Linked DNA regions of Homo sapiens. The protein of the gene in region 4 binds, or shares a complex with, the protein of the main gene of each other region. Each region holds a gene or a part of one and is shown on either strand. Other genes may lie near its edges. The genes, in order: DRC8, DRC7, DRC3 and DRC1.

What was found.
Region 1: DRC1 (region 4) and DRC8 share a complex: the UniProt entries of both Homo sapiens proteins name them as parts of the nexin-dynein regulatory complex.
Region 2: DRC1 (region 4) and DRC7 share a complex: the UniProt entries of both Homo sapiens proteins name them as parts of the nexin-dynein regulatory complex.
Region 3: DRC1 (region 4) and DRC3 share a complex: the UniProt entries of both Homo sapiens proteins name them as parts of the nexin-dynein regulatory complex.

What each region holds. Positions count from the first base shown.
Region 1 is NC_000001.11:245,084,650-245,088,339, reverse strand, and holds the end of DRC8 (dynein regulatory complex protein 8), read right to left. Parts: exon of another isoform or gene 1,581-3,690; coding exon of another isoform or gene 1,546-1,580; exon of another isoform or gene 1,096-1,545; coding exon 980-1,095; 3' UTR 503-979; downstream 1-502. UniProt on the Homo sapiens protein: Component of the nexin-dynein regulatory complex (N-DRC), a key regulator of ciliary/flagellar motility which maintains the alignment and integrity of the distal axoneme and regulates microtubule sliding in motile axonemes.
Region 2 is NC_000016.10:57,718,784-57,725,817, forward strand, and holds part of DRC7 (dynein regulatory complex subunit 7), read left to right. Parts: intron 1-2,883; coding exon 2,884-2,956; intron 2,957-3,929; coding exon 3,930-4,058; intron 4,059-4,218; coding exon 4,219-4,347; intron 4,348-5,831; coding exon 5,832-6,052; intron 6,053-7,034. UniProt on the Homo sapiens protein: Component of the nexin-dynein regulatory complex (N-DRC) a key regulator of ciliary/flagellar motility which maintains the alignment and integrity of the distal axoneme and regulates microtubule sliding in motile axonemes.
Region 3 is NC_000017.11:18,003,844-18,010,877, reverse strand, and holds part of DRC3 (dynein regulatory complex subunit 3), read right to left. Parts: intron 6,516-7,034; coding exon 6,384-6,515; exon of another isoform or gene 6,374-6,383; intron 4,696-6,373; coding exon 4,625-4,695; intron 3,855-4,624; coding exon 3,731-3,854; intron 3,481-3,730; coding exon of another isoform or gene 3,433-3,480; exon of another isoform or gene 2,944-3,432; intron 1-2,943. UniProt on the Homo sapiens protein: Component of the nexin-dynein regulatory complex (N-DRC) a key regulator of ciliary/flagellar motility which maintains the alignment and integrity of the distal axoneme and regulates microtubule sliding in motile axonemes.
Region 4 is NC_000002.12:26,397,279-26,404,922, reverse strand, and holds the start of DRC1 (dynein regulatory complex protein 1), read right to left. Parts: upstream 3,004-7,644; 5' UTR 2,934-3,003; coding exon 2,779-2,933; intron 1-2,778. UniProt on the Homo sapiens protein: Component of the nexin-dynein regulatory complex (N-DRC) a key regulator of ciliary/flagellar motility which maintains the alignment and integrity of the distal axoneme and regulates microtubule sliding in motile axonemes.

The DNA.
Region 1 (3,690 bases), on a different chromosome or scaffold from region 4:
GTGTGTGTGTGTGTGTGTGTGTGTCTTGTTATAACAGAATATCTAAGTTTGGAAAATTGTTCACTTCCCTTTACTTTATCTTCCCCTTTGCTTGTAAGTTGCCATATAGTTGCCATATAAGATGCCAAGATCGGAGAGAATTGCAAGGAGGAGGCAGTGGCCATGCCATATATTTTTCCATTGTGACTGCTTGTGCTTCATTCTGCTCTTTCAGGAGCTGTACATTTGCACACCATAACATTTCTCAGTATTCTTACTCAGTATTCAGGACAATGCTCCCATGACAGATATGCGGAGTGGGTGAGAATTCTAAAGACAAAGGGAGAATTGCCACTACCTTACACTATCAACTTCCACTCAACCTTCTTTTCTCTAGTTCCAATGATCTCAACTCCTTTAGCTACTCCATAAATGGTGACATGCTGGATCAGCAAATATAAATGTTTACACTAAGTTATTATTATCCCAAATGATATTTGTAATTGGCACTCATAAAAAAATAAATTAGTAATATTTATTTTGATAAATCACCTTCCACACTCAGATTGATGAAGCATTTGTTATTGTTTAAAAAAGAAGCCTTCATTACACTGCTACTCGTTTTCGAGTGGTTCGTTCTGCCCCCTCTTAAGATCTTTACATGCCAAACCTTGGGTAATTAAGTCATTTTCATTTTGTCAGCTTAATTAATTCGAAGGTGACCTGAGTTTTATTGTAGAAAATAAACAACAATCCATTCTAATGTTAAAATGTTTTAAGAATAGTTTTTAAATAAATAGTAATTTATCATTCTGTAAGGCTAGACATACTAAATTTGGTTTAAAGTGTTACGATCATCTTTAAAAACAAAGTGTCTTAAAATAGTTATGTCACAAGGTATTAAATATCACATATAGGAATCCTAAGATAAGATGTGAAATTAACAAGAACAAGCAATTTCTAAAATTGTTCTTTCAATCAGAAATTATCTTTAGAACATTTAATTTTCATCTATCACCATCATTGTTATATAGTCCTTGTAATTAATTGAATTTGATTCTGGATCAATTGCAGCAGACAACATTTCTTCCATTTCCTCTTGAGAAAAAGGCTCACCTCAGAGAGACAAAAAGGAAAATTTATCATTTAGGATCATCTGATTTTTTTCTCTTTCCACTAGCCAGCTTAATAGCCATGGAGCCCCACAAGCTCCCACAGTGCCACTAGTTACGCTCCCTGGAGCTGTAGAGCCAGGACATCACGACAGTCCAGAGGTTCAAAGACAAGGCTATTGTACACCCTGGTAGATTCTGGACTTCTTTTAGCCTGCAGATGTCATAGATCAAGCAACCTCTAGAACACGTCATTTCAGGCAAAACAGTAGGAAGACATACAGACATCATGAACAAGGTTATTTATTTAGATTAAAACTTTTGAAATTACCAGAGGATTAACTTGAAGCCCCAGTATTTGATGAAAGATGGAAGGAAGATAACTGAGTGGTTAAAGCACAAGTTTGGATCCACATGCTGGCTGCCTCTCACGAGCTCTGAGATCTTGAGCAAGTCACTTCACAGCTCCCCACCTTAGCTTACCTGTCTCTAGAATGGGGGTGATAACGACACCACCTGTCACATAGGGTTGTCATGAGAATGAAACGTGTTATGATTTGAATGGGACTTAGAACAGTACCTGGCATAGAAGCAGCAACATGCAAGTGTTTGTTTAAAAAATTGTTCTGAGATCTTCCCGGCTGCTAAACACTGTCTGATGCAATACACATTCCTGGACACTTAGGGACTTCTATCTTGTAGGAACTTGATTCAGTGTGATTTATTTTATCATATGACATCCAGGGCTGTAGGAATGCATATTCTCAAACTAGTGTGTTTGATACTTTGTGGATATTAGGATGAATGTGCAAGTAGCTTGAATCCATATTGTTATATAGCATAAATGTACTTAAAAACAATTTGTAGAATTCTGAGACTCTCAAAGCAGCAATTCTTAAGCTCCTATTTTACCAAACTAGTCAACTGCTATTACACTTAGCTGATGGGTCTGTTATATTAAATCGTAACTTAGATTTGTATAGATTTACATCTTACATATTACTTCCAAACATATTGGTTCATATATGTGGAAGGTTTGTAATAATACTTGCTGAGTGAATAATTGAAAACATATGTATTCTTATTTGACCATACCTGTCCTATGCTTAGTCCGCTGAGATACTCAATAGTTGATCTTTAAGTACCATGAACTCTCTGTAAACATACCATTTTCGAAATTATCACACAGCACCTCCAAGTAAACCACGTGGTCGCACTGTCTCTGTATACACTGCGGTCTGTTCTGACCTTTCTGTTTGAGTCAGTCTCATTACCATCATACTCGCCATCGAGGGCAAAGCCTTGGTGGTACTTTGGATTCAGCTCTCAGCTTTGTCGCCTACACTCTGTTACTCATCATGACCCATGGATCCTGCCACAGACAGTCCTATTGTACCAATCCCTTCTTCCCATTGCCATTCCCACTGCCAGGTCAGGCCCTTATTTGGGTGCCCTCAAAATGCTGAAATAACCTTCTAAGTGGCCTCCCTAGTCCAACCTCTTTCTTATGCATCTAACAAACCGACCAGCACCAGAAAAACCTTCTCACAATCACTCACACACCATGTGAGTCATCTGCTCAAAAGCCTGTAATACTTCTCCATCGCCCACAGGATGAATTCCAAACTCCTGAGCCTGGGACTCCACAATTTAGTCCCAGTAAGTCTACTGAAGTTAATTTCCTGCTGTTTGCCAACATTACCCTCTGGGCCAGCTAGGCTTATTTTCTCTCTGAAATAGCATGTTCATTCCTACCTCCCCATTTTTGTTCAGACTGTTTTACACATCGATAATGTCTCCCTCTCATTAGCCCCTTCACCTGGTCTTCATCATCTACTCATTCACTCATTCATTCAACAAACATTTGTTGATATCTACCATGTGTGACAGAATTATAATGCACAAGAGTTTACCTTTGCCCTCAACAATTTAACCATATACATTCTACCATCTCAAAAAACCTATTTTCTCTTTAAGTCTTCCCAAACCAAGTTTTCCAGGCTGGGCCAGCCCTAGTTGATCTTCTGATATTTAGCTTTCTATTGTCTTGTATTGTGAATTATTTTATGTTAGTTTTATTTCCCAAATAAGATTGTAATATCCTTGAGAGAGGAAGTAGATTTAAGTATCATTATACCTTACTACACTTACTAAATATTAAACATATAGTAGGCACACAACAGTAGGAAAATCTAACTGTTTGGGCCATTTTGACTAAATTCATGTTGCCTGATATATAACCTAGGATTTACTTTCTTTAGACTAATCCTCAGGATGAAGAAGCTGATGCTTTGAAAGTCGTAACATCCCCATCAGAATTAATCCCGAAGGTAATTTTAACAATGGCGTCAGAGTTCTTGGGTGGCAGCTGTGACGGCCTTGCCATTCTGACCCTCACTCTCTGTATTCCGCCTTAAGGTGGATGAAGCTGGAATGGTCAAACCAGTTGTGCGTGTAGATGCAGTCTTAGTCTTCCCTACTCAAAATCACTTGCGCTTTTCATTCTGCCTCAAGTGATTAGCAACTCTGAGTCATTCAGGACCCAGTCTGTGAACCAGAGAGCTCTAGCTTTGTATGGGAGAAGGCAAGGGGACCAATA
Region 2 (7,034 bases), on a different chromosome or scaffold from region 4:
CCCTTGCCAGCCTGGGCAACATAGTGGGACCCTGTCTCTACAAGAAAATTTAAAAATTAGCTGGCTGTGGTGGCATGCACCTGTTGTCCCAGCTACTTGGGAGGCTGAGGCAGGAGGATCACTTGAGACTGGGAGGCCGAAGCTGCAGTGAGCCATGTTCATGCCACTGCATTCCAGCCTGCGCAACCCCACCCCACCACAAAAAATAAAAATAAAAATAAATTTAGAAAAAGAAAGTTGCAGAGCGGGGTCATAACACCCCGCTCTGCAACCCCCTGGGAGTCCCAGAGCTGGCTGTTCTCAGTTCTATCCCAAGTAGCCATCATGAGCCCCACATGCTGCCAGGCCTTTCTTGTCTGTTCTGTCAGTTCCTCTGAATGTCGTTGGCCAGGGCCTTACCCACATCACCAGCCTCCCTTCTCTGAATTCAGTTTCAGCCTTTATGTGAAATGGAGGCAGAAGGATCATAGTTGTATTCATAGTAATTCTAATAAGTGCATTCGTCTGGCATCACAAAGCACCACAGATGCGGTTGCTTAAATGACAGAAATTAATTTTCTTACAGTTCTGGAGGCTGGAAGTCTGAGATCAAGGTGTGGACAGGGTTGGTTCCTTCTGAGCCCCCTGTCCTCGGCTTGTAGATGGCTGTCTTCTCCCTGTCTTCACATTGTCTTCCCTCTGTACAAATCTATGTCCTAATCTGTTCTTATAAGGACACCAGTCATTTTTCTTTTTATTTTTTTTTGAGACAGGGTCTCCTCTGTTGCCCAGGCTGGAGTGCAGTGGCACGATCATAGCTCACTGCAGCCTCGAACTCCTGGGCTCAAATGATCCTTCCACTTTGGCCTCTGGAGTAGCTGGGACTACAGACACACACCACCATACCCAGCTAATTTTTGTTTTTCAGAGAGACATGGTCTTGCTATGTTACCTAGGCTGGTCTCGAACTCCTGGGCTCAAGAGATCCCCTTGCCTTGGCCTCCCAAAGTGTTGGTATTACAGGCATGAGCCACCATGCCCAACCAACACCAGTCATATTGGGTTAGGGCCCACTCTAATGAACTCATTTTACCTTAATCACCTCTCTAAAGACCCTGTCTCTAAAAACAATCATTCAAACAGTAAGTGATCAAGACAACAACAACAACAAAGAAAAAATAAGAAAAATAAATAAAACAAATACAGTCACTTTCAGGGCTTAAAACTTCAACCTATGAATTTTAGGGGGATGCCATTCAGCCCGTAGCAAAAGGTAGCACTCACATGGTCCTTACTAAGCACTGGGATCCATTGTATCTACTTAACCTGAAGTAACTCATTTAAATCCCCACAGCCACCTGGTGAGGTGGGCACTGGTATTACCACCTGTGATTAATATTATCCCATTTTACCGATGGGAAGACTCACACACAGAGAGGTTAAGTCACTTACCCAAAGCGATACAGCTGGTAAGTGACAGAGCTGGGATTTGAACCTACACAGTCTGGCTCCACAGTCTGGGTTCTCAATGGTAACTCTGTTCTACCTCCTGGGGCTGCTTGATGTGATGTGCTTGGCACAGCAGTGTAGACCATCTCAAAAGGGTGCTAAATGTTCTCAGCATCCTCATCTCCAGAGACTGGGGACATCTTGTGTGCAGTAAATCCAGGCATAGGTGCCCCCTGCTGGCCTTGGGGCATGGACCAGCCAGGGCCTGAGAGCCCAGCCCTGCAGGCAGCCGGCTGAGCACCCACATGGCTAATAATCAAACAGTTCCAGTCACAGAGTCCTGGTCCACCCTGGCCCAAGAGCCCTCATTACAGCAAAGACGGACAGAGGGCAGCCCAAAGAGTCAGAACCCAGTCATGGACCCCCAGGAAAAACCAGACCCCGGGTGACAGCCCACCCACCTGACCATCTTAGAGATTTTTGACAATACTAACTGCTGACTGCTCACTCATTTTTGTCCCCTGCAAAATGTCACAATTAGATAAACAGTTGTCAGAGGTATGAGCAATGTTTGTGGAAAAAAGGTTTTAAGTCGAGAAAGTCTTATCCAAGTTTCTGTGATTATCTAGTTTGAGGACCATTTATCTAGATCGGGCCTTATTTCACAAATGGGGAAATTAAGGCTCAGAGAGGAAATAATAATAGGCCGGGCATGGTGGCTCATGCCTGTAATCCCAGCACTATGGGAGGCCAAGGTGGGCATATCATTTGAGGTCAGGAGTTCAAGACCAGCCTGGGCAACACGGTGAGACACCACCCTCCTCCCCCGGCCGTCTCTACTAAAAATACAAAAATCAACTGGGTGTGGTAGGTGCATGCCTGTAATCCCAGCTACTCAGGAGGCTGAGGCAGGAGAATCACTTGAACCTGGGAGACGGAGGTTTCAGTGAGCCAAGATTCACTGCACTCCAGCCTGGGCAACAGAACAAGACTCCATCTCAAATGATAATAATAATAATAATGTCAGCCAATCAGAGCCCCAAGGCCTTTACAGACATTATATCATTTAATCCTCCTAAAAGGTCCAGTTTACAGTTAAGAAAACTAAGGCTTAGAGCAGTTAAAGGACTTGCCCAGGACCCCTTAGCTGGTCTTGGAGAGAGGGTGGGGCTTGGGTACCCTGACTCCAGAAACACCTCTCTAATCACGAAGGGCCTGCAGCCAGGGCAGGGGGTGCTGCTGTCCTAAGCCAGGCAAGTATAGGGAAGGGCTCCCTGCCCAGAGTCGACTCCTCCTTTTCCACATCATGGGTCGTGCTCATGACCTCCAGTTCCCCTGCGGAAGCCAACGGACCACCTTGGCTTGGCTCTGCAGGCAGAGACAGAGCTTTGACCATAACTTCTGCTTCAACACCCTGACCAGCACCACCTCCCCCACCCCCTTCTCTCCCATCAGGGCAAGGAGGATGAGGATAAGAGCTTCGACATGCCCCACTCGTGGGTGGAGCAGATTGAGATCTCCCCGGAAGGTATTTTCTATTTGTGTATTCACTTATCCTCTCCAGATCCAGTTCCTGGGCCTCCAGAGAGGTCTGCAACAGCGAGGCAGGGGGACACAGCAGGGAATGCCATGCCCCACATTTCCACCCTTCTCACCTTCAGCTGCACCCTCCCTCCCTCCCTCCCCCCTTCCTGCCACACGCACTCAGCTCTGACCCCGAGGGCCTGACGACCAGTCTGGCACACGGGGCGATGCAGTTCAGTGAGCATGTGTGGGATGATGGCGTGTAGGTGACAGCAAGGCCTGGAAACCCAGCCCATTCCCCTCTCACACTCTTCTACCCAGAGGAGGCCATGGGCAGTGCCCAGATGGTGCGGGGGGTCTCAGGACCGGAGAGGGGCAGGTAGAGAAGGCAGGAGGGCAGGGACTGTCATGCTCCATGTCAATATCTGCTGGTGCCCACCTAGGGAGCACCCAGACCTATGGGGAGGGCATGGGCCACTTCAACAGGGTGGGAAGTGCCAGAGAGGCTGTCATGGGAACCCAGAGGGGGGCGCACCCAGCCCAGCACTGGGGCTAGGGCCTGGGGATGGGTGAGCAGAAAGGGGTACCAGAAGTAGGCTAGGGGTCACCTGGGTGAAGTTTGGAAGGATCTGAAGGAGTCAGTCCAACAAGGGGAGGAGGGGATGACGGTGTTTCTGGCAGAGACCTGTACAAGCAAAGGCCTGGCAATGTGAGAGTGTGGTTGGCTGCAGGGCAGACCCTCTGATGGGGCTCAAATCCCATTCTTGGGTGGATCTGTGCTTCTGCCTGGCCTGAGAACCCCTCTAGGGCTGGAGCCACCCCTGGTGATTATTCTCCTCGGCCTCCCTGGATCAGGCTTGGGGCTGGAGGAGTTCAGTACACAGAGAACGGGCAGTGGATGGATGAATGGCTGGGCGGGGCTGGCCCTCCCTTCCCCCAAACTAGCAAGAAGAGACCACAGCTGACTGTGTCCACAGCATTTGAGACCCGCTGCCCGAACGGGAAGAAGGTGATTCAGTACAAGAGGGCAAAGCTGGAGAAGTGGGCCCCGTACCTCAATAGCAATGGCCTTGTGAGCCGCCTCACCACCTATGAGGACTTGCAGTGTAAGGGGGATTGCTCTGGACATGGGTCCAGGCCAGCCCAGGGGCGGGGGCGGCTTCTACTCTCTCTGGGGTCATTGCTGGCCTCTGTGTGCCTGGAATAAGGGGGGTTGAAGGCTAGGGGAGCTGGCCTGGCTGCGGCAAGTGTCCATCGGCCCCACAGGTACCAATATTTTGGAGATAAAGGAGTGGTACCAGAACCGGGAAGACATGCTGGAGCTGAAACACATAAACAAGACCACAGACCTGAAGACAGACTACTTCAAGCCTGGCCACCCCCAGGCTCTGCGCGGTGCGTGGCTCCCCTTTCCTGGGCCACCCAGGAGCCTGGGGTAGAGGCCTCACACACCCTGTGGCAGGTGGTATGTGGTGGCAGGAACCAGCATACATATTATACATGGGTTCTTGGGCAGCAAGCAGTAGAAGCTGCCCTGCCTCCCTCAGCAAACCCGATGTGTGGGAGGTCAGGGAAAGCTCAGAAATTCTAAGGAAATATAACAAATGCTCCTCCAGGAAAGCTAAAGGGGGCGCCACATACCCGTTCTGTGGTTGGAATCAGGCCGGAACCTCACCATGGGGTCACACGGTGGAGGCCACATTTAAAGGAGGCAGTGCCGGACACAGGGGCTCACACCTGTAATCCAAGCGCTTTGGGAGGCCAACATGGGCAGTTGAGCCCAGGGGTTCAAGACCAGCCTGGGCTATATGGTGAAACCCCATCTCTACAAAAAATATAAAAATTAGCCAGGCATGGTGGCATGTGCTTGTAATCCCAGCTACTCAGGAGACTAAGGCAGGAGAATCACTTGAACCCAGGAGGTCGAGGCTGCAGTGAGCCGAGATTATGCCACTGCACTCCAGCCTGGGTGACAGATAGAGATCCTGTCTCAAGAAAAAAAAAAAAATCCTGACCAAGAAATTTACAAAAGAAAAGCATAGGAGTAATATACATTTTTTTTAAATGATCAACCTCATTTGGAAGTTGATAATAAAAAAAAAGAAACTAATAAGGTCCCTAACCAATAAAGGACCATCTTATAACCCCCATGTTGGCAAAGATGAAAAAAATGGTCCTACTGGGTATGAACAAGTATGGGAGCAACAGTCACTCTGTGTCACTGTTGATGGGACAGCAGATTGGAACTTTTCTGGAGGACAGTTGGGCAAAATATTGATAATGACCATAAAACGTGTACGCTTTTGGCTGGGCACAGTGGCGCACACCTATAATCACAGCACTTTGGGTGGATCACCTGAGGTCAGGAGTTTGAGACCAGCCTGGCCAACATGGTGAAACCCCGTTTCTACTAAAAATACAAAAATTAGCCAGGTGTGGTGGCAGGTGCCTGTAGTCCCAGTTACTTGGGAGGCTGAGACAGGAGAGTCACTTGAACCCAGGTGGCGGAGACTGCGGTGAGCTGAGATCACACCACTGCACTCCAGCCTGGGTGACAGAGCGAGGCTGTGTCTCAAAAAAAAAAAAAAAAAAAAAGTACACTTTTGGGCCCAGCAATTCCACTGCTGAGAATTTATTCTTAGCAAATAATGGACAAGAACAAAAAATGCACGATGCAGATGTTCATCATGGTGTTGGTAATAATCAGAAAAAGTTGTACGCAACCTAAACACCCAGCAATAGGGGACTGGTTCATAGCTAACCTCATCCATAATGTGGGTCTGTCTTCTCCCTGGGCCTGGGGTTGGGCGACCAAGCCAGCAGCCATACTTCCTAGTGCTTATGAAGCTGTCTCCTCCCAACTCCCGCTCCCCACCCAGTGCACTCGTACAAGTCCATGCAACCTGAGATGGACCGTGTCATTGAGTTTTATGAAACGGCCCGTGTGGATGGCCTGATGAAGCGGGAGGAGACACCCAGGACAATGACAGAGTACTATCAAGGACGCCCAGACTTCCTCTCCTACCGCCATGCCAGCTTCGGACCCCGAGTCAAGAAGCTCACTCTGAGCAGTGCAGAGTCAAACCCCCGGCCCATTGTGGTAAGAGCTCGCGGGGGCTGGGGACAGGTCGCCCTCCTTCTCTGGCAGCTGATGTCACCTCTGAATGGTGAGAGCCCTGGCTCTGGGGTGGCATTAAGGCCTGAGACATATCCAAGGGCACCAATGATGAACCAAGCATTTTACCAAATGTATTAGTCTGTTCTCATGCTGCTTTGAAGAAATACCTGAGACTGGGTAATTTATAAAGAAAAGAAGTTTCCTTGACTCACAGTTCTGCATGGCTGGGGAGCCCTTAGGAAACTTAAAATCATGGCAGAAGGGTCCTTTTCACCTTCTGCCTAGTGAAAAGGGTCCTTTCCACCTTCTGCCTAGTGAAAAGGGTCCTTTTCACTAGAATCAGGGCAGCAGGAGAGAGAATAAGTGCTGAGCAAAGGGGAAGCTGCTTATAAAACCATCAGATCGTGGGAGAACTCACTCACTATCACGAGAATAGCATGGGGGAAACCACCTCCATGATTCAATTATCTCCACCTGGTCCCGCCCTTGACCTATGGGGATTACAGTTCAAGGTGAGATTTTGGTGGGGGGACACGAAACTAAACCATATCACCAAATGCGCCATCCTGGGGTTGTCTGGTGTCAGACTGTGCCCTCAGCCATGGGGCCAAGGATGTGTTACTTCCTTATTGTTATACAAAAATACACACTCATGACTAAACATTTGGAAAATATGTAAAAATGTAGAGAAAAGTAAACATATCTCAGAATGGCATCTCTCATATGTTGCCACGGATTATAGGTTTGGTTTTGAGAGTTTTTTCTAATGTAATTGAGATCGGGACCCAGGGATTAGAGTCCCTGTATTACCCACTTAACATGAAATTGTGCATTTTCCCCTTCATGTCATTACAAATTAGTTGGCAACTGTGTGTAATGGCAGCATGCCAAAGAAGCTCTTTCTAGCAGTAAGGGATGTCTAGCAATGGAGTAGGCTGCCTGGAGAGGTGGTGAGCTCCCCATC
Region 3 (7,034 bases), on a different chromosome or scaffold from region 4:
GAGAAGAGATAGATCTCTTCCAGGGACTTGATCTTCATGTCCTTGACCAGGCAGCCCAGCTTGGTGATGGGCATCCACTCCTTTGCCTGGACCTTGCCTCTGAGAGCTCCCCGCAGCCTCAGCCCCTGCCCTGACTATGGCCACAATCCTAGCCCCAGAAGCTGCTGACAAAGCTTCCATGGTTTCCCATTCCAGGCTTCTGGGCCCTCCTGCTGCCATAGTGTCATCTACCATTTGGTGTTTTCTTGGAGAAATGTGTGTCTGTTTTATGCCAGTACCATGCTGTTTTGGTTACTACAACTTTGTAGTATATTTTGAAGTCTGGTAATGTGATGCCTCCAGCGTTGTTCTTTTTGCTCAGGATGGCTTTGGCTCTTCAAGGTCTTTTGTGATTCTAAATTGTAGGATTTTTTTTCTATTTCTGCGAAGAATGTCATTGGTGTTTTGATGGGGATTGCATTGAATCTGTAGGTTGCTTTGGGTAGCAACAAAGTGACTTTTGAGAAGGCAACAGCTGGTGCCCCTCCCCAGGACCACCGCACTGCTAGTGGCTTGAGGACTTGCTGCCCCATGGCATGTGGGATCAGATCATTCCATCATACCCACAAAGGGCACCTGACAACCCTGCATTCTCCTCTGCCACAGACAAATGAGCAGCTTGGCTTGATGGGCAGGGACAAGCCAACGCGGAGTCTCCTGGTGCCAGCCAGAATCTTGTGGCAGTCTCCCTGTCCAGAGACTGCTGGCTTGGGTCAGACCCACTGCCACTTGAGCAGACCCTGGGGACTTGCATCCTCCCTGGGCCTGAGCACTCACCCTGCCCTCGCAGCCGGATACCCGCGTGGATGTTCAGAGCAGCCAGGCAGCACCTCTGTCCTCCCCACCTCCCTAAATGGGCAGCTGTGGCTGCCAGCACCACTCAGATGCCCTCCCTCAGTGCCAGCTCCAGGCTCTCTCCTCAGCATGTACGTTCTGCTTTTCCTCTCAAAGCTGGAAGGACTTGAAAATAGATATGGGACAGATTGGCCCCATGTAGGTCATGAGCTGATAACAGTCACTCAACTGCATGAGTGGAGTTTTAGAGATAACCTCATCAGGGTGACTTATCAAGATATGCTCCTTGATAATTAGGTAACAGAAGCCAGGTTTTTTTCACCCACAGCCCTAGTCCCTCCTCTGAACATCCCCATCTTGCTATACAGTAGACATTTTGTCAAAGGCTTTCAATCAAACTGCCTGGTTCAAATCACAACCCTATCTGTTATAAGCTGTGTGTCCTTGGGCAGGTTACCTTCATCTCTGTGCCTCAGTTTCCTCATCTGTAAAAGGGAACCATAATAGTACCTACTTTTCCGTGTTGATGTGAAGATTAAAAAAGCAAACATGAGTTCAGTGCTTCCCAGAGGGCTGGCCCTCAGGAGGCCCCCAGTCAAATGTCAGCGATGTATTATTCCTTTATTTTATTTTATTTTTTTGAGACAGGGTCTTGCTCTGTCACCCAGACTGGAGTGCAGTGGCACAGTCATGGCTCACCTTGACTTCCCAGGCTCAAGTAATCCTCCAACCTCAGTCTCCCAAGTAGCTGGGACCACCAGGTGCGCATCACCTAATTTTTAAATTATTATTTGTAGAGAGGGGGTCTCGCTATGTTACCCAGGCTGGTCTCAAATTCCAGGGCTGAAGCAATCCTTCCACCTCAGCCTTTCAAAGTGATGTTGGTATTACTCATATAGTCAGAGCATACTTTTTCCTCCTGAGAAGGGTAGGTCACATTTTTTGTTGCTTAGATGGAAGGAGACTTAGGCCATGGTATAAGGTCCTGGGGAGTCTCTTCCTATAACTGCAGGCGTAAAGCCACAGGAATGGTGGTCAGCTGGCACCAGGCAGAGCCAGCTGGGCTGGAGGGAGGGCTGGCCACTGAAAATGCCAGCCCAGCCTGCTTCTCTGCTGTTGGCCTCTGGATTCATCTTTTTCTGTGTGTCCTAGTCATTAGAAATTGGGCACGTTTCAGTCCTGTGCCTTCTGGGTGTCACAGACATGGGAGCTGTGCTGGGAGGGATCTCCACCCACCCCAAGATGGTCTGTCTGGGGAATTCCAAACTGGGCACTCAGGGACAGCCTTACTTCACAGGGAAGGTGGTGTTTTCCTGTGTCTGGTCAATAGCAATTAGCTGCAGTTATCAGCTTAGGGAGGGAAGGCTGGTGTCACGGTGACCCTATCACCACACTGCTATGTTGGGTGTCTGTCTGGGCCCCAGGACAGAGGCTGTGGAAGTCAGGGACTGCTGGTCCTGTGTGTCTGCAAGACTTAGCCCCATATCTGGCAGAGTGGAGGCTTGGTGAGCATACGCTCTCACACTCATTCTGCAGATGATGCCTGGCATCTGTGCTGCATGTTGTACACTGTTGCTGGTACTGAGGGGGTACATGGTGGTGAAAAGGCCATCCCCGTCCTCCCTCCTGAGCTTACATGTAGTGTGAATAGTCACATCAGCAGCAAATACACATCAGCCAGGTAGTTTGAAACTATGATGAGGCTCTGACCTGACCTGATAAATGGGGCATGTGATACAGAGACAGTGGTTTTTCTGGAAGTTGATGAAGAAAGGCCTCTCCCAAGAGCTGATAGTCAAGCTGAAATCTGAATGACAAGGACAAGCCAGGCACATGGGGACCTAGGAAGAGCGTGTCTGCCAGGTGGAATATCAACTGAAAGGAGCAAGCCTGGGTGACTGGGGAAGAGCTCAGAGGCTGCCGCTGAGCATCAGGAGTGAGGGTTCTGGGGGTGGGAATCGCCCAGATGGGCAGGGTCAGCCCGAGGGTCTGGGGGACTATGGGGAGGAGCTGACGCTAGGGGTCATGAAAGCCACTAGAAGGTGTTGTGTAAAAGTGTGCAGTGATAGGGTTTGGGTTTTCAAGGGTCCCTCTGGCTGCCACATGGAGGACGGACTGTAAGAGGACAGTAAAGAGGCAAGCAGTCCAGGCCAAGGACGATGGTGGCTTGCCTTGGTGGTGATGTCGCGACAGAGAGAAGCTGAGAAACTGGCAGTGGAGTGAATGATGCATGCACTAAAGCAGGCCCTGACAACATAGTATCTCTGTCTGGGCCCTGACAACATAGTATCTCTGTCTGGGCCCTTGATGCCCACACTCCTTCCAGAGACATAGACATGCTGCCGCGGGACCCAGCGCAGACATCCGGGAGAGCCTTCTTAGCGTGCAGACCCCAGGGATGGAGCCAGGTTCCTCAGGCCGACCCTGCTGATTTTGTGACCATTCATCAGTGGATGTGCTGGTGCAAACCGGATGGCATTGTGCAGGATCAGAAATGGTGGTTCCAACACCCCCACAGTACTCATTATACAGACTCTAAGGTTAAGAAGACCTCCAGGGGAAATCTCAGACTTCAACCTCTACCTGTAACTGCTTCTCTTAGAAAGTGCCAGAAGCCTCCACATAATTGAACTTTTGGAAACGACCCTGTTGGAAAGTTGAAACCATCTAATTATCATGAGCTCCTCTTTAACTGGGCCCCACTGGGTGCCCCACCAGGTGCTTTGTTAGCCTATTTTATCTGCCAGCAACCCTGTAAAGCAGGTTAGTGTGCCCTTTTGCAGATGAGAACACTGAGGCTCTGGGAGGTTGTCAGGCTTACTCACAGAGCCTCAGTCCAGCCACAGAGCTGGGCTGGACCACATCTGTCAGGCTCCGAGCAGCCCGCCCCGCCTACCGCGCGCAGGTCGTTAGGCAGGTCCTCGTCCAGGTCGCCCTCGACAATCTTCTCCAGGGTGCTGATAGAGATCTCCAGGAGCTTCTCGTGGTGGTGATTCTCCAGGTCCCGGCACTGAGCCATCGTGCAGCCCCGAGTTAAGCAAAGGCCCGGGAGGAGCAGGCCCGGCGCGTCCCTGATGCTCTCAGACGGCGGGAGACAGACTTTAAGGGCCCAAGGCGAGCTCGGAAATTCTGGCTGGCAGCACCGTCCACTCACAAGCTCCGAACCCTGGGCCTTCCTCGACTCCCTGCCCCTGCCCCACACCTCGGACGGACCCTCGGCCCCTGCCATCACACTCTTCTCTCCCTCCTGCATGGAGGCTCCTGGCCTCTGGGTTAACTGCTTCTCACCCTGTGCATTTGGCACCACTTGTTGCCTCTACAACTTGTCTCCCTGAGGGACTGTGAGCCCCAGGAGGGCAGGACCACAGGGCTGCTGCTAGCTGGAGCACAGCAGTTTGCCCCATGTGGAGTGCCCTGAGTTCGGGTGGAAGAAGGGTTGGCCATGCTCCGATGTTGGCTCCTCACCCTAACATTTCACCTGATGTACTCCTTATAGTGTCTTCCACGTGGGGGTTGCCTCAACCCCAGAGTGTGCTTGCCTGCAACACAGGGGGCGTCATTTCCTAGTGAACATCACTCATATGAGAACAATCATGCTGGGAGCCTACTGCAAACAGTTTGGATGTTGTCCCTCTGGGCATCCAAACCACAGCTCTAACCAGGCCATCATTGTTCTGAGGGTCGGGAAACCTCCTCAGACCCTGTGGAACATTCTTTTGTCCAGAGGCCGGGACAAGCCCAGGGGCTCTGTAGCACCTCCCCATGGGGAAGGTCATCACAGAAAGGATATAGGCTTTGGACATTTTCGATAAACAGTCCTACCATGTCAACAATGTTCCTTTCAAACATGTTTATAGTCTCCTGGAAATGTTAAAGAACACAGTTAACATGCATATTTAGATGTCCAGCACAGAGCAAAAGGTACTCCTCAAAATTTAGCAACCAGCTCCTCTAATCACAGACCTTCAGCATAAAGACCACCCATCTTGACCCTCCTGAGCAGATGGTTGTGAACTGACCCCTCTGCTCTCTCTAAAGTTGTTGTTCTCCAACCATATTAACTCCCTCACCATCTGAATGTTTAATGCTGTCACCGGAACTTTGCCAGGAACACTTGTCCTGGTCTTACTCCCCTTACCTGCCTGCCCAACACACACACACACAGCCAACCCCCTCTCCTTTGGGTTTCCCAGTGACATCTGTGCATCACCTCCAGGGAAACAGTGGAGTGAGCTGTTAAGAGCTAGACTGCCTGGGTCAGTATTCCCAGCTCCAGCACTCTGTGTAACTCTGGGAAAGGCATTTCACCTCCTTGGGCCTTATCTTCCTCATCTGGGAAATAGGTTACCTGCATAATCCCTGCGTTGTGGCGTTGTGGTGAGGTTAAATGAGTCACTTCACACAAAATGCTTTGCAAGGTGCCTGACAGAGAGGAGGCCCTCAGTAGGAGCGGGCTGGCACTCCAGATCTCTTTCAGTTAGTTGCTGTTTTGTGGTGCTTAGCAAGGCACCTAAGGCCCAAATGGGAGTTAGTGTTGATTGAAGGAACAATGGAAGATGTGATCTCCAGGCCTGCCACTCTCGGAGTGCCCCACTCCCATCTGCTATAGACTCCAGGGGCTGCAAGGTGGGCAGGGGTGGAATCTATAGGAATGTGAGTACTGTCTGCAGAGTGAGCACCTCACATAATTTTCAAACACATGTATGTGCTGTTCTCGTGAATAAAAATAGGGTCATTGAAAAGCATGATTGCGCTTGTGGCTTTCTGGCCACCAGTAATACAAGTAGGATGGCACATGGGTTCTGGGAAATGTTTGGATGTTGAAAGGCAATCTCCGTGCCTGAAAAGGCTGGGAGCTGCTGCCTCACTCGCCCCTGGCACTGTGCGCTGCTTCTGCAGTGCCTGTGCTCTCCAGCAGGGAGGGAGCACCTGCCCTGTGATGTGATGGGGAAATCTATCCCATGTCTGAGGTGTCACTTGACGTGTGAGGAATTGATTAGGTGCTATCACTTGGCCCAGCCACAGCAGCATCCGATGAGGTTCAATTCATCACACCACTTCAGACTCCCAGCCTCCGCTGCCTTGTAACACATACTCTGGCTGCTAATGAATTTCAGACAGCGGCGCTTTTCATTTTCACTACTTAGTGCTGAGTTGCAGCCTCCTCACGTCACCTGAGAAGCGGCAACTGCAGGCTGCAATGCGGAGGGGTCTTTGTTTGGTCCCCAAGTGGGGGTGCGCTTTGCCTTTAGAGTACCCGGATAGCTCCAGGGGTCTAATCAAAAACCTCTCCCCACTGACTTCCAGGATAGGGGGACCATTTCAGAAGAATGAGCTCACCTCTCATTTTCCACAAGAATCACTTCCAATGTAAATGATTAAAATGTAATAAAAGCAAACAGGACTGATGAGCAAGAAAGCTACAGCCTGCCACGCTGAGTCGTGCTGGACGTTTCCAGCAGAGGCGTGCCCATGAAGGCTACAGTTCACCTATGGATGTGCAGCTGCATCGCCAGATTCTGGCACTTGTGCCCAGGGCCCAGCCTTACCTCCAGCTGCTCCACCAGCTGCATCTCCAGCGTCATGAGCGCATCGAACAACTCACTGATGTCAGCACTGCATTCTAGGATCATCTTCTCAATGTTGGGCAGTTCCAACTCCTCTCGAATGGCACTTAAACTCTAGAAACAATAGACTGCACTTTAGGAATCAACAACTAAGTGTAATTAGATAATGGCAGGTGGCAATTTGGTTTTGTGGGTAAGAATTTGGACTCGAGTCAGCCTGCCCAAGTGCAAGTCTCAGCTTTGCCATTTGCTGGCTCTGAAAGCGTGTAGAAGCTACCTACCCTCTCCATGCCTCAGTTTCCTGGTCTGTAAAGTGCGATTGATAGCCCCTACCCTTGACACAAGTGAGAGAACACATGTGAGGCTCTTTGAGCACTAGCAAGTGCTCACTCCCTGTAAGCTCAGGTTTTTATTAGAGGCTGGTAGGCAGGGTAGAAGGAGCCATGGCTTTCATGGGGTTCAGAGCATTTCACACCAAAATATGCCGCTTTGGCATAGTGATTATTTTGAGTTAAAGATACTTAAAGGCCGGGAGCAGTGGCTTATGCCTGTAATCCCAGCACTTTGGGAGGCCGAGGTGGGTGGATCATGAGGTCAGGAGATTGAGACCATCCTGGCTATCACAGTGAAACC
Region 4 (7,644 bases):
GGTCTGAGTTACCATTGACACCCAGAGACCCAAAGCATGCTCCCACCCACTTAGAGTGAGGACACAGGGGAGGCAAAGTCCTACTTACAGAGGGTCTGCCAAGTCTGTGGACTCAGCCAGCAATCATGTCTCTAATGGCCAAAAGTATAATTGGGACCTACATACTTAGAAGTTTGAAAAACTCCACTCCTTGGCCTATAAATAGAGCTACCATAGTGGGGAAGGCCAAAAGGACATCTCTGAAACTGCACCTCAGTACACAAAAAAAAATATTGCCACCCAGGGGTGTTGGTGGGGATTAGTGCCACCCTGAAGTATCTCAACGATGCAGGAATGGTGATCCCTATTGAATCTCCTTTTAATTCATGGGTCTGGCACCTGCAGAAACTGGATCCTAGAAAGTGACTGTCAACTACCAGAAGCTCCACAGGTAGCACTCCTGAACACAGCATCTATGCAAGTGTGGTAAGCTTCACTAGAGCAAATTTGTACAGCCTCAGGCACAGTATGTGTGGCTACTGATTGGGCCAAATGCATGCTTTTCTACCTCAATCAGGAAAAATAATCAGGAAGTTCACATTTACATGGAACAGACAATGATATACACTCACAAGTCGGTCACACTCACAGGACCATGGTAGTTCTCCTGATCTCTGTCATAATATATTCTGAATATATCAGGGACATCTGGATATCCCAGAGAACATCACAATGATCCATTACTTCAGCACTGGCAAACTATGGCCTGTGGGACAGATCCAGTCCACCACCTGTTTTTGTATGGCTTCCAGGCAAATAATGATTTTTACAATTTTTTTTTTTTGAGACAGAGTCTCGCTCTGTCGCCCAGGCTGGAGTGCAATGGCACGATCTCAGCTCACTGCAACCTCCGCCTCCTGGGTTCAAGCGATTCTCCTGCCTCAGTCTCCTGAGTAGCTGGGATTACAGGCGCGCGCCACCATGCCTGGCTAATTTTTGTATTTTTAATAGAGACAGGGTTTCACCATGTCGGTCAGGCTGGTCTCAAACTCCTGACCTCGTGATCCCGCCCGCCTCAGCCTCCCAAAGTTTTGGGATTACAGGCATGAGCCACTGCGCCCGGCCCAATTTTTTTTTTTTTTTTTTTTGAGATGGAGTTTTGTGCTTGTCACCCAGGCTGGAGTGCAGTGGCGCTATCTCAGCTCACTGCAACCTCTGCCTCCCAGGTTCGAGCAATTCTCCTGCCTCAGCCTCCCAAGTAGCTGAGATTACAGGTGCCTGCCACCACACCTGGCTAATTTTTGTATTTTTAGTACAGACAGGGTTTCGCCATGTTGGCCAGGCTGGTCTTGAACTCCTGACCTCAGGTGATCCTCCTGCCTTGGCCTCCCAAAGTGCTGGGATTACAGGCATGAGCTACGATTTTTTACAATTTTAAATGGTTTTTACAATTTTAAATGATTTTTACAATTCTAAATGGTTAATAAATAAATGGTTAAAAAAAGACTAGGATGAATAAGCAGAGCACAGGGGATTTTTAGGGCAGTAAAAATATTTGGTATAATACTATACTGGTGGGCTCGTGTCACCATAAATTTATCCAAACCCATAGGATGTACAACACCAAAAAGAAACCCTAAGGTAAACAATGGAGTTCAAGTGATAACGATGCGCCAAGGTTCATATATTGTTACAAATGTGCCCTCCAGTGCAGGATGTTGACAGTAGCTGTGCATGTGTGGGGGCAGGGAGTATATGCGAATGCTATACTTTTTGATCAGTTTTGCTGTGGTCCTAAAAACTGCTCTAAAAAATAAAGTTTATTATTATTTTTTATCAAAAGAAGGCTATTTTGTGATACATGAACAGTATATGAAATTCAAATTTCAGTGTCCATAAATAAAGCTTTATTGGAACACAGTCATGCCCATTTGTTTATGTCTTGCCTGTGGCTGCTTTTGCAATACAATGGCAATTGAGCAGCTAGGAAAGAGGCCATATGATCCGAAAAGCCTAAAATATTTACTATTTGGCCCTTTACTGAAAGGGTTTGCCGGCCCCTGCATTCCACTGATGGCCCCGCAGCAATCAGCCAGGGTGAGCGAGTGATGGAAACACACTGCAGGGCTTGGTAAGACATGTGTGCTCCAGACGGTGGGCAATCAACCCTATGAAGGCCCAGGGACTGCCATGTCATTCAAGTTTGTAGGGGTCCAGTGGTCAGTGGGATGCTGGGATAGCCTATCAAGTAAAAAACAAATCTACTGCATTTTGCATCCTCTACAGAGAAGGAAACTCAATGCCTCTTAGGCCACTTTGGGTCCTAGAGACAATACATCCCGCACTTAGGAATATTATTCAGGCTGACACAAAAAGCTGCCAGCTTTGAGTGGTGCCTGGAACAAGAAAGGACCCAGGCCACAGTGTAAGCAGCCAGGCTACTTGGGCCACATGATCCAGCAGACCCTGTGGTTTGGAGGTGTCCGTAGTGGAAAAGATGCCATGTGCAGACCACAGTCGAACGCCACCACGCCCGATTAATTGTTTGATGTTTTATAGAGATGGGGTCTCTCTATGCTGCCCAGGTTGACCATCTCCAACTCCTGGGCTCCAGTGATCGGCCCGCCTCGGCCTCCCTAAGTGCTGGGATGACAGGCGCGCGCCACGGCACCGGCCCAGCGTTTTACTTTCCCATACTCTGCCTGAACCTTCCCGAAGAAATGTTTCTATTTCATCAGGAAACCAGCCCTTCTCCGGCTCCTGCGGCGCGGATCCCGCCCCGCCCGCCCCCGCGCTCACCGCCTCCGGGCTTCTAAGCGCGCAGCGATGCGGAGGCGCCGGGCCTGGATGCGCTCCTGAGAGTTGTCGGAGTGGACCGAGGGCGCGAGAATCTGGGTGGACAAGTGCTCGTCCACGTTCGGGTCCAGGGCCTCTAGGGACCCCGGCGGATTCATGGCAGGAGTCCCTGGTCCCTAGGCGGCTCCCTCCGCACCACCTCCAGACCTCAGGCTGGTTGCTAGGAACAAACCGTTGCCAGGGAGAGCGGTCACCGGAGCCACAGCCCGAGTGGTTGCGCGCGCAGCTCCCTGGGCCCAGCCTGCCGCCAGCCGCCGTTCCGGCCGAGCATCCCAGCCTCGGGCTGACGCCTCTCCCGCCCGTGGGATGTCAGGTCTGTTGTCAGGCCCACGAAGGCCCGGTCGTGTTAGCGGAGCTGTGGAGTCTCACCAGGAGACTAGAGGACTAAAGAACTGGACCAAGTTGTGGTTCATCACTTGCTGACCCTGATGATTAATTCATCTTCCATTCATTCATCAAATATTCCTCCAACTCATATTCACCAAATAAAATTGAGCGCCTACTCGATGCCAAGCGCTGTGCTTGGATACAGGATACCAACCTGCAATCAAATACTTATGAAAGAGGAAAAGTGGAATAGAGGAAAACAGTCCGTGGGAGGGGGGAGGGATAAAAGTTAGAAATGCGGAAGCACTATTAAATTCTCAACTGTCCCCAGAAAGGCGCTATCTTCTGGGCGTCTCATTGTCAACAAAAATAGTGTTCTCATTGAGAATTAAAACCTGGCGCGCTGGCTCATGCCTCAGCCTCCCAACACTTTGGGAGGCCGAGGTGGACAGATCACTTGAGGTCAGGAGTTTGAGACCAGCCTGGTGAACATGATGAAACCCCGTCTCTACTAAAAATACAAAAATTAGCTGGGTATGGTGGTGGGCACCCATAATCCCAGCTACTCGGGAAGCTGAGGCAGGAGAATCGCTTGAATCTGGGAGGTGGATGTTGCAGTGAGCCGAGATCGAGCCACTGCACTCCATCCTGAGCAATAGAGCAAGACTCTGTCTCAAAAAAACCCAACCAACCAACCAAACAAAAACTGGATACCATTTAACAGGGTTCTGTCCCATTAGCCCGTGGGGAATTAAGGGCACTGGATGAGCAGTGAGAAAGGGTGAGTACTAGTCCTAGCCCTGCCCTGCCACCTTGGGCAAGTCACAACTTCTTGAGGAGCATTTTCTCAGCTGTTAAATGATGCAACCCACAGACAACTGTGCGGCCAAGACGACCCGTCCTTTGTGAGTAAGAACTGCCCAGAGGCAAATGGAGTGGGTTTTTAAAATCAGTTCTTCCACGTTTGCAAGCAGTAGAGAGGTTTAGGAATGCCAAAACCATCCAACAGCTATAGAGTCTAACAGCAGCTGCCTGGATCCTTGTCTCACACCTGCCTAGGTGGTGGTGGTAGGAGCGGGGGTACTTGCTTCTAGGCTTCAGGGCCTTCTGCCAGATCTCTGTCTCCTTTGGTTGAAACCTAAAGTATTAAACTCTCCTAGGAGCCATGATACAGCTCTGACCAAAAACTCGTCCAGGTCCTGGTTCATGTTTCCACTATCCGTAAGGACAGAAACAAGCATGTGTGCATGCGCATGTCTATGCCTGGGAGTGGGATACCATGAGAAAGTCAGGGGGAATCAGCTGTTGCACAAGAGGTAAGTGAGAGCAAAGGTACCATACAAACCCATGAAGAGTGACCAGTGAGATACTTGGCCCTGCACTGTTCTGATACCACTTCCAACATCTTTTTATATAAGAAATCTGACTCCATTTTTTGCTGCTGACATTTGGCTGCTGGCAGCTTTTACGCAGCACTCCCTCTTTCTTCTCCACATCTGGGCAAGCTGTTAAAAAAAGCCTAGGTGCTCTTTTTGGTGCTGGCAGATTTCATCTGCGTGCACAGGATACCCTCCTCCCAGCCTCACCCCTTAACCACAATAAAAGCCCCAAGCTTGTCTCCTTTCCTGGCTCTCTCTAGCCATTTTCTGACCAGCTGGGAGGCCCTCTTTGCTCCCACAGGCAGCCTCAATTATGTAATAAACCTTTTTCACTGGTGTGGGAAACACTTTCACTCACCGCTGGAAAGGGACCTCCTAGGAGGACAGTTTGCCAAAATCTATTAACTGTTTAAATTGGCATACTAGGGTAAAGGGTGGAATAGGGAGAGATTTGTTAAAGGATACAAAATGACAGGTTCTAGTGTTCTGCACCACTGGAGGGTGACTATAGTCAATAACATAGTTTCAAATAGCAACGAGGATATTGAGCATTCCCAACACAAAGAAATGACAAATGTTTGAGCTGATAGGCATGCTAATTACCAGACCTGATCACTATACATTATATGGATTGAAATATTACTATGTACCCCATAAACATATATAACTATTATTTCCTTTTTTTTTTTTTTTTTTTTTTTGAGACAGCGTCTTGCTCAATTGCCCAGGCTGGAGTGCAGTGGCATAGTCTTGGCTCACTGCAACCTCTACCTCCTGGGTTCGAGCGATCCTCCTTCCTCAACTTCCCAAGTAGCTGGGACTACAGGCGTGTGCCACCATGCCCAGCTAATGTTTATTGTATTTTTAGTAGAGACAGGGTTTTACCATGTTGGCCAGGGTGATCTCAGACTCCTGACCTCAGGCGATCCACCCGCCTCGGCCTCCCAAAGTGCCAGGATTACAGGCATGAGCCACTCCGCCCGGCCTGCCGAATTTTTTTAAATACTAAAAATTTTTTAAACTGAACAAAGGACAGAGAGAGGAAGAAATATTTTCATGGGGCAGACAACTGTGGTTGTAGAGGTCAAAGGAATGAAACAAAGAGACAAAGAAAAACCACTAAACAAGAAAGTCAGAAGACATGTAATGAATTATGATTAAATATAAATGGGAAAATGCATGCTTAATTTTCCATGCCTTTGTAAATAGTTCATAAGTGAGTTAAATTTAGAAAATTGTTAAAAACTGAAAAAACTAGATAAAAACATATTTATTTGTATACACACAAAAATAAATTAGCATATCCATTCACTAGGCAATTCTAGTTTAAAGATCATCACAAGGAGATCATGGATCTAGCTATAGCTCATTGGGGTCACAACTATATCAGTTTTATTCGGTATTTTATACATAGCACCTAGCACAATATTTGATATGTAGTAAGTGCTCAACAAACTTTTTTTGAAAGAAACGTATATAGATGTATCTGTATGTCCATTCCAGTTACTTGTAATATTAAAAAACTAGATATGACAAAATCCATCAATAGGGGAACCGATAAAAGAATCATGGGATTCTCTAACACAAGAATAAAGGTGACCTAGAAAGACATCCAAGATACATTACATGAGAAAGGGAAGAGGCAGGCAGCACAATATAGAGCCTAAGCCGAGTTTGATTTGAAATGTAGACAGTAGTACACAAGAAAAACAGGGGGAATACCACAAAGTAGTCAATATCCCTCAGGGGTGGGCTTATGGGTGATTTTCAGATTCCCTGAAGATTAAAAAAAAATGTTTACAATGAGGATAAATCCCTTTTGACTCAATAAAACATAAAGCTTATTTATTCATGTTTTTGTAAGAGAAATAACAGGAGACCCCCAAGAGAGTGAGGCAGGCAAGTAGGGCTGTTATAGATGAGAGGGACTTGGGGAAGGGAGGCAGGTGATGTCCATTCACCTTGATGACTGACCAGCATCTAGAGTGTGGTCCTCAACTGGTAGGCAATGCTGGTTCATACTAATAAGCTCATACAGGCCGGGCACGGTGGCTCATGTCTATAATCCCAGCACTTTGGGAGGCCAAGGTGGGTGGATCACGAGGTCAAGTTCGAGACCAGCCTGACCAACATGGTGAAACCCCATCTCTACTAAAAACACAAAAATTAGCTGGGTGTGGTGGTGCATGCCTGTAACTCCAGCTACTCAGGAGGCTGAGGCAGGAGAATCGCTTGAACCCGGGAGGCAGAGGTTGCAGTGAGCAGAGATTGCGCTCTAGCCTGGGTGACACAGCAAGACTCCATCTCACAAAAAAAAAAAAAAAAAAAAAAAAAAAAAAAAAAAGCTCATACAAAAGCCTGGCTGGCTCATACTAACAAGCTCACAAAAGAAAAACATAGAATTTCTTTTAGCAAGCAAGTACAACCATCACACAGGGCAGTGTGCATTTTCGTGCCTTTCGTGTAGATCAGCCCACAGAGATGTGCTGGTCACAAAGAGGATCAAACTCTGACTGGGAAGTCCCTTGATATGTAGGACTGACTGCCATGGTTCAGAGGCTCACAATGGGGATAATCTGCCACAAGCACAGTCGAGTTCCTCATCCCTGAGTAGGTTTTTGAGGAATCTGGCTATATGGGCTTCCCTTGCTAAGGAAGGTATGTGGGCATCCACCTTCAGCTTTTATAGCCTTTTTTCAAAACAAGAAGGATGAACAGATTTGATTTTATATCTTACTAAGTCTAGTCACACTTAATTCTACATCCAATAAGTTTACACTAACTCACCTTAATTGGAATGTGAGGATGCTGACAAATTCATCATTTAGACAACTTCTTAGGTTATTTCTATCTTTCGATTTGTGTGAATTTTACTAATTAGATTCTGAGAAGGCAATCTTACCAATTTTTAATTTGGGGAACTGCCTTACCATCATCTTCATATACTGCCTCAAAAGGCATGAAGGAGGAAAGAGAGGGGAGGAGGCATGGAAGTCATGAGCTGTGTCACATGGTTTAGAAAAAAAGTTCAAAGAAAAAAGACAGAGAACTAGATATTAGTAGAAACCAAGCACCTACCTTAGTCCACTGACTGTGCTAAACA